Linked DNA regions of Homo sapiens. The protein of the gene in region 1 interacts with the protein of each later gene in a pairwise test. Each region holds a gene or a part of one and is shown on either strand. Other genes may lie near its edges.

Region 1 (7,022 bases):
TTATTAAAATACGAACCCAAAGCTATTCTGCTGGAGATTCTGTTTTGGTAGGTCTGGGATGAAGCCCAGGAACCTTTTGTTTCAACCAGAAGCCCCAGGTGATTCTGATGCAGGATGGCTTTAGATCCCACTTTGAGGAACATTACTGCTTCTTTACCCGCTTCAGTTTCTATGTCTTATGAAAGCAATTAACAGAGATTAACCAGGGTTACACACAGAATTGCTGGTGAGTTCTCATCACCGAGAGCAACCTCGACAGGACAGCTGTTAGGACCAAATGAGAAGTACAAGACAAATTCCTTTGAAAAGTGTAAATCACCCTACAAATAGAAGCTGACAGTACTGTTATAATCACCACTATCATCTAACACATTCTCTTCAATTCTTCAAAGGTAAAAAGATCATAATAAAACATTTTTCCCTGCATTTTGGAAATGAGAAAACTGAGGCTCAGAGAAATTATCTTGCTTACAGTCACACAGTTACCAAGTGATGATGCTAGGATTCAAATTCCCTAATGGTTAAAAACATGGTTTTAGGAGTTAGGCCGAGGAAAAAGTTTGGCACTTCCACTTACTAACAGTGTGATCTGCGACCAACATTCCAATCTCTCTAGAATCAATTTCTTCATTTGTGAAATGGAACAGTAATAGTACCCACAACTCATTCATTGAGATAATATATGAAGCCCTCAGTATAGTACCTGGCACATAGCAGGTACTCAATATATGTTAGCAGCTACTGTTCTTATCCAGGAGGATGCGTGGATGGGGATAAAGCACAGGGAAAAGGAAAGTTGGAGATAGAAGACCATATGGAAAAGAAACACCAGAAAGCTCTGGTGGTTCTTTTTTTTTTTTTTTTTTTTTTGACAGAGTCTCGCTCTGCCACCCAGGCTGGAGTGCAGTGGCATGATCTCGGCTCACTGCAACCTCCGCCTCCCAGCTTCAAGTGATTCTCCTCCCTCAGCCTCCTGAGTAGCTGGGATTACAAGCTTGTGCCACCATGTCTGGCTAATTTTGTATTTTTAGTAGAGATGGGGGTTTCCCTATGTTGGCCAGGCTGGTCTTGAACTCCTGGCCTCAGGCGATCCGCCTGCCTCGGCCTTCCAAAGTGCTGGGATTACAGGTGTGAACCACCGCGTGCAGCCTAGTAGTTCTTAACTACCTCAAATTATAGTTGTGCTATTACATATCCCTTCTCTCCTACAAATGTCTAGAAAAAAAGTAAGCCTCTAGAAGGCTAGGAAGTGTGGCACACTCCCTCATTATAAAACCACCATGTGGCCGGGCGCAGTGGCTCATGCCTGTAATCCCAGCACTTTGGGAGGCTGAGGCAGGCGGATTACCTGAGGTCTGGAGTTCAAGACCAGCCTGGCCAACATGGTGAAACCCTGTCTCTACTAAAAATACAAAAATCAGCTGGGCATGGTGGCAGGGGCCTGTAATCCCAGCTACTCAGGAGGCGGAGGTTGCAGTGAGCTGAGATTGTGCCACTGCACTCCAGCCTGGGTGACAAGAGCAAAACACTGTCTCAAAAAAAAAAAAAAAAGACATCATGCAAAATGCTTTGTTTACTGATGTCTGCTTCACCTCTATCCTTATTTACCTTCCCATGTACTGTAAAGTGCAAGTTCCTTTCTGAAACTTTTGCACCTAGCATGGGGTTCAGCCAAAATGGGAAGTCAATAAATGTTTTTCTTAATTAATGAAAGAATGGTTGGTAGAAAATCAACTAAAAATTACTAAACCGATAAAATAATTGGTCCTTAAGGCTGGGTTTCTCAACCCTGGCACTAAGGACTTTTCAGATTGGATAATTCTTTGTTGTTGAGGGACTATCTTGTGTGTTGTAGACTGTTTAGCTGCAACCCTGGCCTCTACCAATTAGATGCCAGTAGTACCCTCTCCTATAGTGGTGACAATAAAATGTCCCCAGACATTGATGAATGTTCCTGGGAGTGAAGGAAGAACAAAATTACCTTGGTTAAGAGCCACTGCCTTAAGGAGAAGGAAGCAATAAAAAGACCTTTTCTTGTTGTTGCCCAAAAGTATGCAAAAATTCTAGTTCTTCTAAGAAGTTATTTTTTGGGTTTTACTTAATGCAGTTACTCAGGTCCTTTAAATATTATAGAAGATATAATCTGTAGGAGGTTCTCCAGCCCCTTGAGAAAGGCTTAATTACCATATTCCAGAACTTGTCGAATGCAACAAGGAAGCCTGTACAGACGCCCCGAAGTCCCTTGAAAGTGCGGATGTGAACATTCACCTTCACCCCCTCACGGATACAGCGATGGAGTTCACCCAGAGGGCTGCCTTCGTGCACTGAAACAAGAGAAGAACAGTCAGGACAGTTTTAATATCTGCCCTCATTCCCAGAATTAAGCCACGACCACCCAACTTCGGCCAGCAACATGTGGCCCATGGTAGAGTGACAATCTCACTATTGGAACAGGAAGGTCCAATGGGCAACATGGCTCGTACGGCCAACACACACTGACACAAGACTAGATTCCAACAGAATGTGGATCATCCATATGTATGAATATCAGCCAAATGTTTCACTACCGGTATATCTCTTATTCCACGATGTCACTGATTTTAACATGCACTATCACTTAACTTTTGGGGTTGGCCGGGCGTGGTGGCTCACGTCTGTAATCCCAGCACTTTGGGATGCTGAGGTGGGCGGATCACCTGAGGTCAGGAGTTTGAGATCAGCCTGGCCAACATGGTGAAACCCCATCTCCACTAAAAATACAAAAATTAGCCAGGCATGGTGGCCCATGCCTGTAATCTCAGCTACTCAGGAGGCTGAGGCAGGAGAATGGCTTGAACCCAGGAGGTGGAAGTTGCAGTGAGCCGAGATCGCACCATTGCACTCCAGCCTGGGCAACAGAGCAAGACTCCATCTTGAGAAACACACACACACACGGGCACGCAAACATTAAATGTATACATTAACAGCGAGATCCTTCTCAATTCTGTGCCTTAAGACAATTCATGAATCACATATCCAGCTTGAGTCTTCCAAAAAAACAAAAACCTTGTTTACATGTTCAAAGGAAACAAACTGCACTCTGCCCTTAAACATGTACAATCCTGTCAGAAAGAAAGGCCTTTGACCCCACCAAAGCTACTCCATGCACAAGCTTTCTGGACTCACTGGTGTTTCTGGGAGGAAAAGCACTGGTTCTGGCCCAAGCCCTGACAGTGTAAAAGGCACCTGGCTGAGTATCTGGCTCCTATGACACTACTAATAAGCATCATGTGAAGAGAGCAGGATAATGACTCATAGGAAGAATATTGAGACTATAAATTTCAGCTTTTATTATGAAGGATTCTCAGAGCGTGGGAGGAAAGATGAATTTTATTTTTATTATTTCATGTTAACTCAGCTCTCACAATATGCTGGCTATGGTATATAAAACCTCCCAAAAGAAAGCCGTACACATTCTTTTTTCCTGAGACAGGGTCTCACTGTCACCCAGGCTGGAGTGCAGTGGCACAATCACAGCTCACTCCAGCCTTGACCTCCCTGGCTCAAGCGATCCCCCTAGCTCAACCCACTGAGTAGCTGGGACTACAGGCACGCACTACGCACCCCCAATCTCTCTCTCTTTCTCGTGCGTACACAGTCTCACTCTTTCCCAAGTTTGCAACGCAAAATTCTGTAGAAAGTTTATTTTTGGTCAGGTCTTAGAAGTCTGGATATATAGAGTATTTGGCATTGACAGTAGACAAATGAAAAATCTCTCCTGCTTTGTTTCTAGTGACATAAAGGAGAACAACAGTCCTGCACTTCAGTTTGGATAACTAAATTGGTTCCTCCTGAAGCCACCTTATCCCTCTGTCATGGATTGGCTTATAAATGATGGCTGTGATAAATTAATAAAAGATTCTTAGAAGAAAATGACTTAGCAGACTAGCAGGAGTTTATGTCAGATTAACGGTGTGAGAATAACTCGGAGTTGGAAGCGACACGAAGCAGTGACTTTGGAAAAGACCATGAGAATTCTGGTCTGACCATCATCATTTACCTCTCTTCTAGCAGTATTTTAAAGTCCTTTGTACATTTGCTAGCTAAGGGTGTGTATGGGTGTGTGGGTGTGTGTGTGTGTGTGTGCGCGCGTGCGCGCGCGTGTATATGTGTTATAGGCCATATTAAATCAAGCATTCAAGCATTGTAAACAATTTTCAGGTCATTATAACTAGTTGTGTGAACCTGATGAATAACTTTTTCTTTAAGTTCCAAATTTCCTCATTCATAAAATGAGGTTAAGATAGTTAACTTGTAGATTTATTTCAGGACTAAGTCCCAATAACTCAATTTCTTAGAAACTGATCACATGCTTGCATTATTTCTTTTCCTACACATACATATATACTGCCCCCTGCCCTATGATGTATGTTTATACAAAGAGTGGAAAGACTATTTTTTTCTAACTTGGAAAAAAACAGGGACATTACTTCTTTCCCACACCTCCAAAAATAGAAAGGGCAAGCAGGTATCTTAGCAACAGTCTCTTACTCTAATTAAATAGATGGCAAATTCAGGTCTTTCAATTGGTCTTTCTCAAACGTGTACCTTTAATTTTTTTCTTCCAAAGATTTAATAAGGTGTAATTCCAGGAAGCATTGCTCTCCTTGTATCCTTGTGTGATCAAAAGTACGACACTAGCACCACCTATCAGAGCAAACCGCCAAGGCAAAAATGAGCTCCCCATTCTGAATCAGAGTGCACATTCTCTTTCCAGCCGTCTCTGTGGCAAGCTCCAAATGGATATGAGTCAGGTTTCTATGACCAAATATGACAAAAAAGCATATGCCTTATCTTTGGAGAAAGTTACTCTTCCAATCCCCTTCTCTATTGCCACATCCTTCCAGATCCAGGTCATTTTCAGCTCCACTCTTCCTTCTCCTGCTACATGTAAATTATACCATCACAGCCTGATTTTAAAATAACTGTTCTCAATCATGCCCTTCTTTAAAGACCTAAAACTTGCCTCTTACAGTAACTCTTGTTTTCCTTAGAAAGAAATATTTAATAGGAATGTAGGAACAGAAGCCACGTCTGCGTCTCAGGTGGCGGCAAAACAAGATGGTGGATCCCCGTGCCATGACCCCCAGATGCAGGGCTTATATGCTACAGGGAAAGGGTGATTCAGAAGGGATGTGTAGGACAATTGAAGTAAGATAACGTCAAGGTTGTTCTCATGTAAGGACAGGAATTACAGTAAGTACATGCTCTTACACAAGAAACAACAGATAAATTGGAAATCTTAGAGGCCTTCCCAGAACTGGGTTTAATCAGAAGTCAACATGGTGGACTGGCATTCAAGATGGAGTTGCTTTAGCCTCCACAACTACCTATTCAAAGATTTAAGGACAAAACTGTATCTACATATATATCTCCAAATATACAAAGTTATTAGCTCATTAGGGCAAAGGCAGCTCCCCAGATTCCATAACCTATTAAGGGCCCAGAGAAATGAAACCACAAACTGTAACAGTCACCTTATGAGTCTGCAATGGAAAAATATTTTCTCTTTTCTCTGAAAATAGTTTTAGTTGCCATTCTATAGAAGGGTGCCATGACAGATTGAAAGTACAATGTTTGAATCAGTGACCCGGCAAAGGCACATCAGTGTCTTCCCTATTGTGATGCTATGTCAAACTGGCCTAAACACACACACACACACACACACACACACACACACAGCAGTGTGGTGCAGAAATCATCTGAGACTATTCCTTAGTTGCACTGGAGACAGCTGACTGGAAACAGCTGCAATGAGCTGAGAAAAGTGACAAGGCTGAATTTTAAGCTTGGCCTTTTCTGAAGCCTAAGTACCGCTGTTCTCGGTTTTATGTAAGTCATACTCATGCCCTTTTGGCAACCTCTGTGTAACAGAGATGCTGTTCAAATTTGAGAGTTCATTTTACTGCTGTACACAGGGCTCAGATGTTCTTGATTTTGCCTATTTTCTTGCTCTTTATTTGCAGGAAGTGAAGTCAAAGTTATCCAAAGAATATCACTTTATTAAAATGAAAACATCAAGACACCATATTGTGGGAAATTATTTCAGCAATCAAAGTAAACTACAACAACAGGACTCAAACAAATTTTCAATCATGGTATCACGTCAGAGGCCCAATAAATCAGGTTTGTTTTGAAATCCTTCTCAGCAGGATGTGTGCGAGTAAAAGGACTGTGTAGGCTCCCTGCAGGAAAACTGAATTTGGAACTGGAGACAAGCCATTCACCTAGACAATGGTCTAGGAGCCAAACCCTGCATGTCATATGCATTTTGGATTGACCACACACACTTGTTCACACCGGCACAGGCTGCACACCAACACACCTGTAGCTAAAACAAAGTAATGATAACACTTTTTCTTACAGCTTTATAATGTCAAGACGTGAGCTTGAACACACCAGTTCATTTCACAGTGACAGATATACCTAGAAAAAGCTTGCTTGAAGCACAATTATAAACCAGAACCACCGTGGGCTAGGTATGGTGCTGCGATACTAAGGAGAAATATAGACACTAGAATTATGTGGAAAAGAGGATAATGCTCTTTAGTCTTGTCTTACCATCTCTATAGGCATGTCAATATTAAAAAGGAGGAAAAGCAATTGCATTCCACTTGCAAGTACAGCTTGTGTGTGAGTTCTTTGTTGGTATCAGTGATGGCTTAGGCTTAATGATGACGAAAAACCTTTCCTCCTATGCTTTTTTTCTTCTTTAGTATTCCCAGTATTGCAACAGCCTCCTATACTTTTATTATTACTTTTTTTTGAGACCTCGTATCACCTCTGTAGAGGTCTCTATGATGTCCCTATGATCTCGGCTCACTGCAGCTTCCACTTACAGGGTTCAAGCGATTCTCGTGCCTCATCCTCCTGAACAGCTGGAACTAGAGGCAGATGCTGCCATGCCCAACTAATTTTTGTATTTTTAGTAGAGACAGGGTTTCACCACGTTGGCCAGGCTGGTCTTGAACTCCTGGCCTCAA
Region 2 (7,168 bases), on another chromosome or scaffold:
AACCCCATCTCTACTAAAAATACAAAGTTAGCTGGGTGTGGTGGCGCATGCCTATAATCTCAGCTATTCGGGAGGCTGAGGCCAGAGAATCACTTGAATCCGGGAGGCGGAAGTTGCAGTGATCCGAGATCATGCCTTTGCACTCCAGCCTGGGCAACAAGAGCGAAACTCCACCTCAAAAAAAAAACACCCAAAAAACAAAAAACTACTGACCATCCAGGTAGCTAGCAACGAGGACTGATAAGAGGTGATTGGTAAGTCAGCTTGGGGAAGAGTGACATGACCTTTTTGTTCTGTTTGGAGCCTAATTTTTTTGACCAGGAAATTAGGATTTTGAGAATATTCAAAATTAAAACCATGGCTATAATGTTATGGCATATTTTACCAAAGGCTGGTTATGGCATATTTTACCAAAGGTTTTTTTTTTTCTTTTTTTTTTGAGACAAAGAGTCTCGCTGTGTCGCCCAGGCTGGAGTGCAATGGCATGATCTCAGCTCACTGCAACCTCTGCCTTCCAGTTCAAACGATTCTCCTGCCTCAGCCTCCCGAGTAGCTGGGACTATAGACCTGCACTACCACACCCAGGTAATTTTTGTATTTTTAGTAGAGACGGGGTTTCACCATGTTGGTCAGGCTGGTCTCGAATGCCTGACCTCAAGTGATTTACCTGCCTCAGTCTCCCAAAGTGCTGGGATTACAGGCCTGAGCCATCACGCGCCGCCAGAAAATTAAGGTTTCTAATGACAGTGTTTCACAAACTAACTGATTATCAGAATTATCTGAGAGTATCATTGAAAAATATATATTTCCTTTTTTTTTTTTTTTTTTTTTGAGACAGAGTTTCACTCTTCTTGCCCAGGCTGGAATGCAATGGTGTGGTCTTGGCTCACTGCACTGCAACCTCCGCCTCCTGGGTTCAAGCGATTCTCTTGCCTCAGCCTCCCAAGTAGCTGGGATTACAGGTGCCTGCCACCACGCCTGGCTAATTTTTGTATTTTTAGTCGATACAGGGTTTTGCCATGTTGGCCAGGCTGGTTAGGAACTCTTGACCTCAGGTGATCTGCCCGCCTTGACCTCCCAAAGTGTTGGGATTACAGGCATGAGCCACCATGCCCGGCTGGAAAATAAAGGTTTTTAATGACAGTGTTTCACAAACTAACTGATTATCAGAATTATCTGGGAATATCATTGAAAAAATATATTTTTGGAGCTCATCCCAGACTTGCTAAACATATTTTACCTTGTTCTTTTAAAAATTATTTCTTAGTATTCTTTTTTTTTTTTTTTTTTTGAGACAGAGTCTCGCTCTGTCACCGAGGCTGGAGTGCAGTGGTATGATCTCAAAACTGCACTGGGCCAGGTTTTGTGTTTTGTGTTTTTAACTTTAAAATATGTTTAGTGCGCCAGGCCGCAGTCGCTCATGCCTGTAATCCTAGCACTTTGGCAGGCCGAGGCAGAAGGATCACTTGACGCCAGGAGGTTGAAAGTAGTCTAGGCAATATAATGAGAGCCCTGCGCCCCCCCTCCCCGCCCATCTCTATTAAAATAATAAGAAATAGGCCAGGGGCAGTGGCTCACACCTGTAATCCAAGCAATTTGGGAGGCTGAGGCAGGCGGATCACTTGAGGTCAGGAGTTCAAGATCAGCTTGGCCAACATGGTGAAACCCCATCTCTACTAAAAATACAAAAAATTAGCCGGGCGTGGTGGCATGCACCTGTAATCCCAGCTACTTGGGAGGCTAAGGCAGGAGAATGGCTTGAACCCAGAGGGCAGAGGTTGCAGTGAGCCGAGATCGCACCATTGCAGTCCAGCCTGGGCAACAAGAGCGAAACTCCGTTTCAAAAAACAAACAAACAAACAAACAAAAACACAAAACCAAAAACCTCTGTCTCTCTTCCCTCCCCTCCCCTCCCCTCTTGCTCTGTCTCTTCCCCAGGTGATTCTGATGATGAGCCAGGTTTGGAAAACACCAATCGACCAAGTCACCTACCTGAAACTTACTCCCACCATCAGCATCCCTGGCTTAAATGTCCACCTATGCTTAAATATCTCTGATCACAAGGAACTGACTACCTCCTGAAAAATTTCCATTTTGCACTGGGCAGCTCTCACTTCTGTGGGATTGACACCTCCCTCCATGAGGTTTCCATCTGTCTAGCTCCGTGCTATCCTTACTCTGCCAAGACACATCACATTCCTGTTCCACATGACAGCCCATCAGATATTTGAAGCAGCAAGAATATTCCCCCAAGGAGAATATCCCCATCCTCTTTAACTGTTCTTCCTGAGAGTGTGTTCGGACTCCTCATCCAATTGCTCTAAAAGTAACTGAAACCTGATCCCACTTAATGATTACATTTGATGTGCTGCAAATTGCCCCTGCCTTGTGACATCCTTCTTCACCTCTCCGTTTTACTTTGGTTTTCTCTAAAGTCATAGACAAGGACACTCTGTCTCATCACACAAGGTAAAATGCACTCAAATGTCCAATCTGCATGCAAAAACCCAGGGCTTTAAGGCGATGAAGAAGGATCCCATACCTCTCTTGGACCTCTCTGAAATCACATATGGGTAGATGATCCAGCAGACAACAGACACAATCAAACCACTTTTTTCCTGTCTGACTTTTCAACTAAAGACAGCCATTCCACTTCCGGTGTCTTGGTCTTATCACTGTAACTTGAGCTGAGACTTTACTTCCATGTCTCCCCCCACCCTCAGGAGTCCTCAGGGTTTCCACTAAAGCCCCCTTTCATTGAGCCTACAAGCCTTGCTGGGAGGCACAGGCAGCGTCCACCCCGATGATGTCCTCCCGCCGGCATCCCGCAGCCTTCGCCTTCCTGGTTCACCTGTCGCTTACCTGTCTCGCTCTCTCACCTCTGCTGGTCAGCAGGTAATGTTTTCGCTTTCTTCTGGGTTTGCTTTTCAGCCCCCCAGTGCCCCCTTCTTCCTCCTGCCTCGCTGCTTGGTGGGAAGTGTAGTTCTGGCCCCAGGTGTCGGGTTTGGCGTCCTGAGAAAGTGAAAGGAAAGTGCAATCCCTCCCACCTGCCCTGAGTCCGGAGCTGCCTCAGGGTACAAAGCGCCAGGTGAGGGCGGCCAGCACAGGGCAGGGCGCAGAGCCGGCTTTCTCACCAGCCTTCGCCGGCCTAGCGGAAAGCCCTCACAGGAAGGAACAGCCAGTGAATTAAACCAGTGCTGGCCCATACGACACTGCCCCTGCTCCTTTCTTCTACTTTACCTTGTCTTGTGGGCTTTTGCGTCCTTTGCTCTCAATTTGTCCTGGTGTCCCTTGTTAGGAAACAATTTCAGAATGTATCTCATGTAGTAACAGCGACTGTTTTGCAAAATGTTTGGGTCAGTTGTACATGTGCATATTGTACTGGGTGATGTAAAAAAAAAATTTTTTTTTTTTTTTTGGAGACAAGGTCTCACTCTGTCACCCAGGCTGAAGTGCAGTGGCACCATTCATGGCTCACTGCAGCCTCAACCTCCCGGGCTCAAGCAATCCACCTGCCTCAGCCTCCTGAATATCTGGGACTACAGCTGGCCTGAGGGTTGTTAGTTGAGATAACACCAACTAAAGGAGGATATAGATCTTAAGTAATTTATTTTATTATATATACATATTTTTTAGAGACAGGGTCTTGCTCTATGGCTCAGGCTGGAGTGCAGAGGCATAATTATGGCTCACTGCAGCCACAACATCCCAGGCTCAAGGAAGCCTCCCACTTCAGCCTCCCAAGTAGCTGGGACTACAGTCATACACCACCATGCCCCACTATTTATTGTTTTTAGAGCTGGGATCTCCCTATGTTGCCCATGGTGGTTTGACACTCCTGGGTTTGGCCAGGCATGGTGGCTCATGCCTGTGATCCCAGCACTTTGGGAGGCTGAGGTGGGCAGATCACCTGAGGTCAGGAGTTCGAGACCAGCCTGGCCAACATGGCAAAACCCCATCTCTACTAAAAATACAAAAATTACCCGGGTCTGGTGGTGAGCCTATAATCCCAGCTACTCTGGCAGGAGAATCGCTTGAGCCTGCGAGGTGGAGGTTGCAGTGAGCCAAGGTCGCGCCACTGCACTCCAGCCTGGGTGACAGAGTGAGACTCCGTCTCAAAAAAAAAAAGAAAAAAAGAGAAGAAACTCCTGGGCTCAAGTGATCCTCCTGCCTTGGCTTCCCGAAGTGCTGGGATTACAAGGCATGAAACCACCGTACCTGGCCAGATTGTAAGTAATTTAAGTCTTTGTTTTGTAGATCTGAATATCTCTTTGTGAGGAGTCAGAGAAAGGAGATGATGCAAAGAGAAGGAAGCAAAAACAAAACTAAAAGAACTTTGAAGGTATATGAGAAGAAAAAGCTGAAAAGAAAATGTCTGCCTCACTCCCTCAAAAATTCTACCATAGAGCAAAGGTTGACGTCCAGAAAACCTCAAGTTTATCAGTCCCAGATGCTGGCAGTAGAAGCATAAAGCTGAGGTGAATTTTCCTTACTATTTTTTCCCCAGAGTCTAGAACAGTAACTGCCTCCCAATGTCTATCACAGGGACCAGATTTTCTCCACTACATAGGATGTGATATGTAGGCAGTTAAATGGCATTATAGACACAATAAGCAAAATTGAAACAGAGACACCCTGTTGGATAAAATATTTACATCGGTGTCCTGTTTCCAAACTGTGGGCTGAGACCTATAAATGAGTCATGAAATCAACCTTTGTGGGTTGCAACCAGCATTTTCACAAGAAGGGATTAAGAAACAACTTCAGAATGTATCTTGTGTAGTAACAGTGACTACTGTTTTGCAAAATGTTTGGGTCAGTTGTACACATGCATATTTTACAGGGTGATGTAAAAAAAAAATGTTTTTTTTGAGACAGGGTCTCACTTTGTCTCCCAGGCTGAAGTGCAGTGGCACCGTCATGGCTCACTGCGGCCTCAACCTCCTGGGCTCAAGCAATCTTCCTGCCTTAGCCTCCTGTATATCTGGGACTACAGGTGTGCACCATCATGCCCAGCTATTTATTTCATTTTTTTGTAGAGCCAGGGCCTCACTTTGTTACCCAGACTGGTCTCGAACTCCTGGGATCAAGCAATCCTCCCACATCAGCCTCCCAAGGTGCTGGGATAACAGGCGTGGGCCACCGTGCCTGGCCTGAAATGTCTTTTTAACTGTAGGCTGGGGTCCGCAACGTTTGAGAAGCACTGAAATACAGGGCAATTTATTCACTGTCCAAGAACATTACTTCTATGATGTCTTCAGATAAATTTGAAAATATTTGTCTTACCCAAAATTCCAGTTACATATCCATTTTCAGGATACTCTCTTCTGAGTGAGATAAACTCAACACTGGCAGGTATAGCAAGAAAACAAAAGACTCTGCCAAATATTGCTGCAGGGTGAGAACCACCAGCACAATGTGGAAATCCAGTGTAGGTAAAGATTCGCCCCAAATGTGTGATCAGGAAATAAAACCTGTTAGGTGTCAGTGTCATGAAGTTCAGTGTCCAAATGTTGTCTTTCTTCTGGTAATGGTTACTTTTTTTTTTTTTTTCCTGAGATAAGGTTTAGCTTTTGTCACTCAGGCTCGAGTGCAATGGTGCGATCTTGGCTCACTGCAACCTCCACCTCCCGGGTTCAAGCGATTCTCCTGCCTCAGCCTCCCGAGTAGTTGGGATTACAGGCACCCGCCACCACGTCCAGCTAATTTTTGTATTTTTAGTAGAGATGGGGTTTCACTATGTTGGCCAGGCTGGTCTGGAACTCCTGACCTCAGGTGATCCACTTGCCTCGGCCTTCCAAAGTGCTGGGATTATAGGGGTGAGCCACCGCACCTGGGGTGGTTACTGTTTAAAAAAAAAGTCACCTGACTCAGACCCACTGAGCACTTGGAGAACATCTACAGGTAGAAAACAAATGTTACAAATATTTAAATATCCTGATGGTTTTGGAAGTCAAGGGGAGAGAGATCTTACCTCTGTCTACCACCCAACCCTCTCCACCAAGGTCACTATAAATACAAAGAGCATAGCTTGGGCTACAGGAAAGAAGGCATTCATATGTATAAATGTGTGTGTATATATACACTGTTTTTTCTTTTTTAAGAGACTGGGTCTCCCTCTGTCACCCAGGCTGGAGCACAGTGGTACGATCATAGCTCACTGCAGCCTCCAAAGGTGCGGCTGAAGTGATCCTCCTACCTCAACCTCCCTAGTAGCTGGGATTAAAGATACACACCACCACATGGCTAAGAAGGCATTCTAGCCCTGAGTGGTGGTGACACAGGTTATATACTTGAAGTATACACACACACATATATATGTATACACCCATATGTAAATATAACACAAAAAACTATGTATTTCACTCTATGTATATATATTTACCATTTTAACCGTTTTTAAGTGTACAATTCAATGGCATTAAATACATTGTTGTGCAACCAACATCACCATCCATCTCCAGGACTTTTTTGGCATCCCAAACGGAAACTCCATAGCCATTAAACAACAATTTCTCATTTCCCCTTCCCTCCAGCCATGGGCAACCACCATGCTACTTTCTGACTCTATGAATTTCACTACTCTGGCTACCTCATATAAGTGGAACTGTACTGTACTGGTCCTTTTATGTCTGACTTATTTCACTTAGCATAATGTTTTTGAAGGTTCGTCTATGTTGTAGTATGTGTCAGAATTTGCTACCTTTTTTAGGCTGAAAAATAAACGATTCACAATATATTTTTAAAAATAAAAGTAACATATTTGGCTCATTTATTTTTGCTCACCCTGACATCATATTTCTCCTTGGATGCCTAGAGACAAAACTACCACTGTATAAGGGCTAGAAACAAAACTACCACTGTATAAGGGCAAATAAAAATGAAAAATAACAGGCTTAATTCCTCTGCTGAAAATAAAGAGACTTCTCAGCCTTCTCTCTGTTCCTTCAAAATTTCTTTCTCTGTCCTTTTCGAATGTACACAAATCTTTATAACGGCGAAATGAGCCTCTTGCCAGTATCACAACTCAGAAATGTATCCTCAAGGACTTGGGGGTCATCTTTTTGAAATTCAGACGTGAGTTAGTGCCTGTATCTTCCAGTTCCTACATGAGGGTAAGAGACTAAATTAGTGGGTATGGGCGCCTTGCTCCAATTTGTAAAACTAC

Evidence for each region. The genes of interacting proteins can lie anywhere in the genome.
Region 2: the proteins of LSM11 (region 1) and RAB19 interact in binary tests that used the Homo sapiens proteins (3 or more experiments, as listed by UniProt).

Annotation. Positions count from the first base shown.
Region 1 is NC_000005.10:157,746,692-157,753,713, reverse strand, and holds part of LSM11 (U7 snRNA-associated Sm-like protein LSm11), read right to left. Parts: intron 2,325-7,022; coding exon 2,185-2,324; intron 1-2,184. UniProt on the Homo sapiens protein: Component of the U7 snRNP complex that is involved in the histone 3'-end pre-mRNA processing. Increases U7 snRNA levels but not histone 3'-end pre-mRNA processing activity, when overexpressed. Required for cell cycle progression from G1 to S phases.
Region 2 is NC_000007.14:140,399,912-140,407,079, reverse strand, and holds the start of RAB19 (ras-related protein Rab-19), read right to left. Parts: upstream 3,023-7,168; 5' UTR 2,863-3,022; exon of another isoform or gene 2,612-2,862; intron 1-2,611. UniProt on the Homo sapiens protein: The small GTPases Rab are key regulators of intracellular membrane trafficking, from the formation of transport vesicles to their fusion with membranes.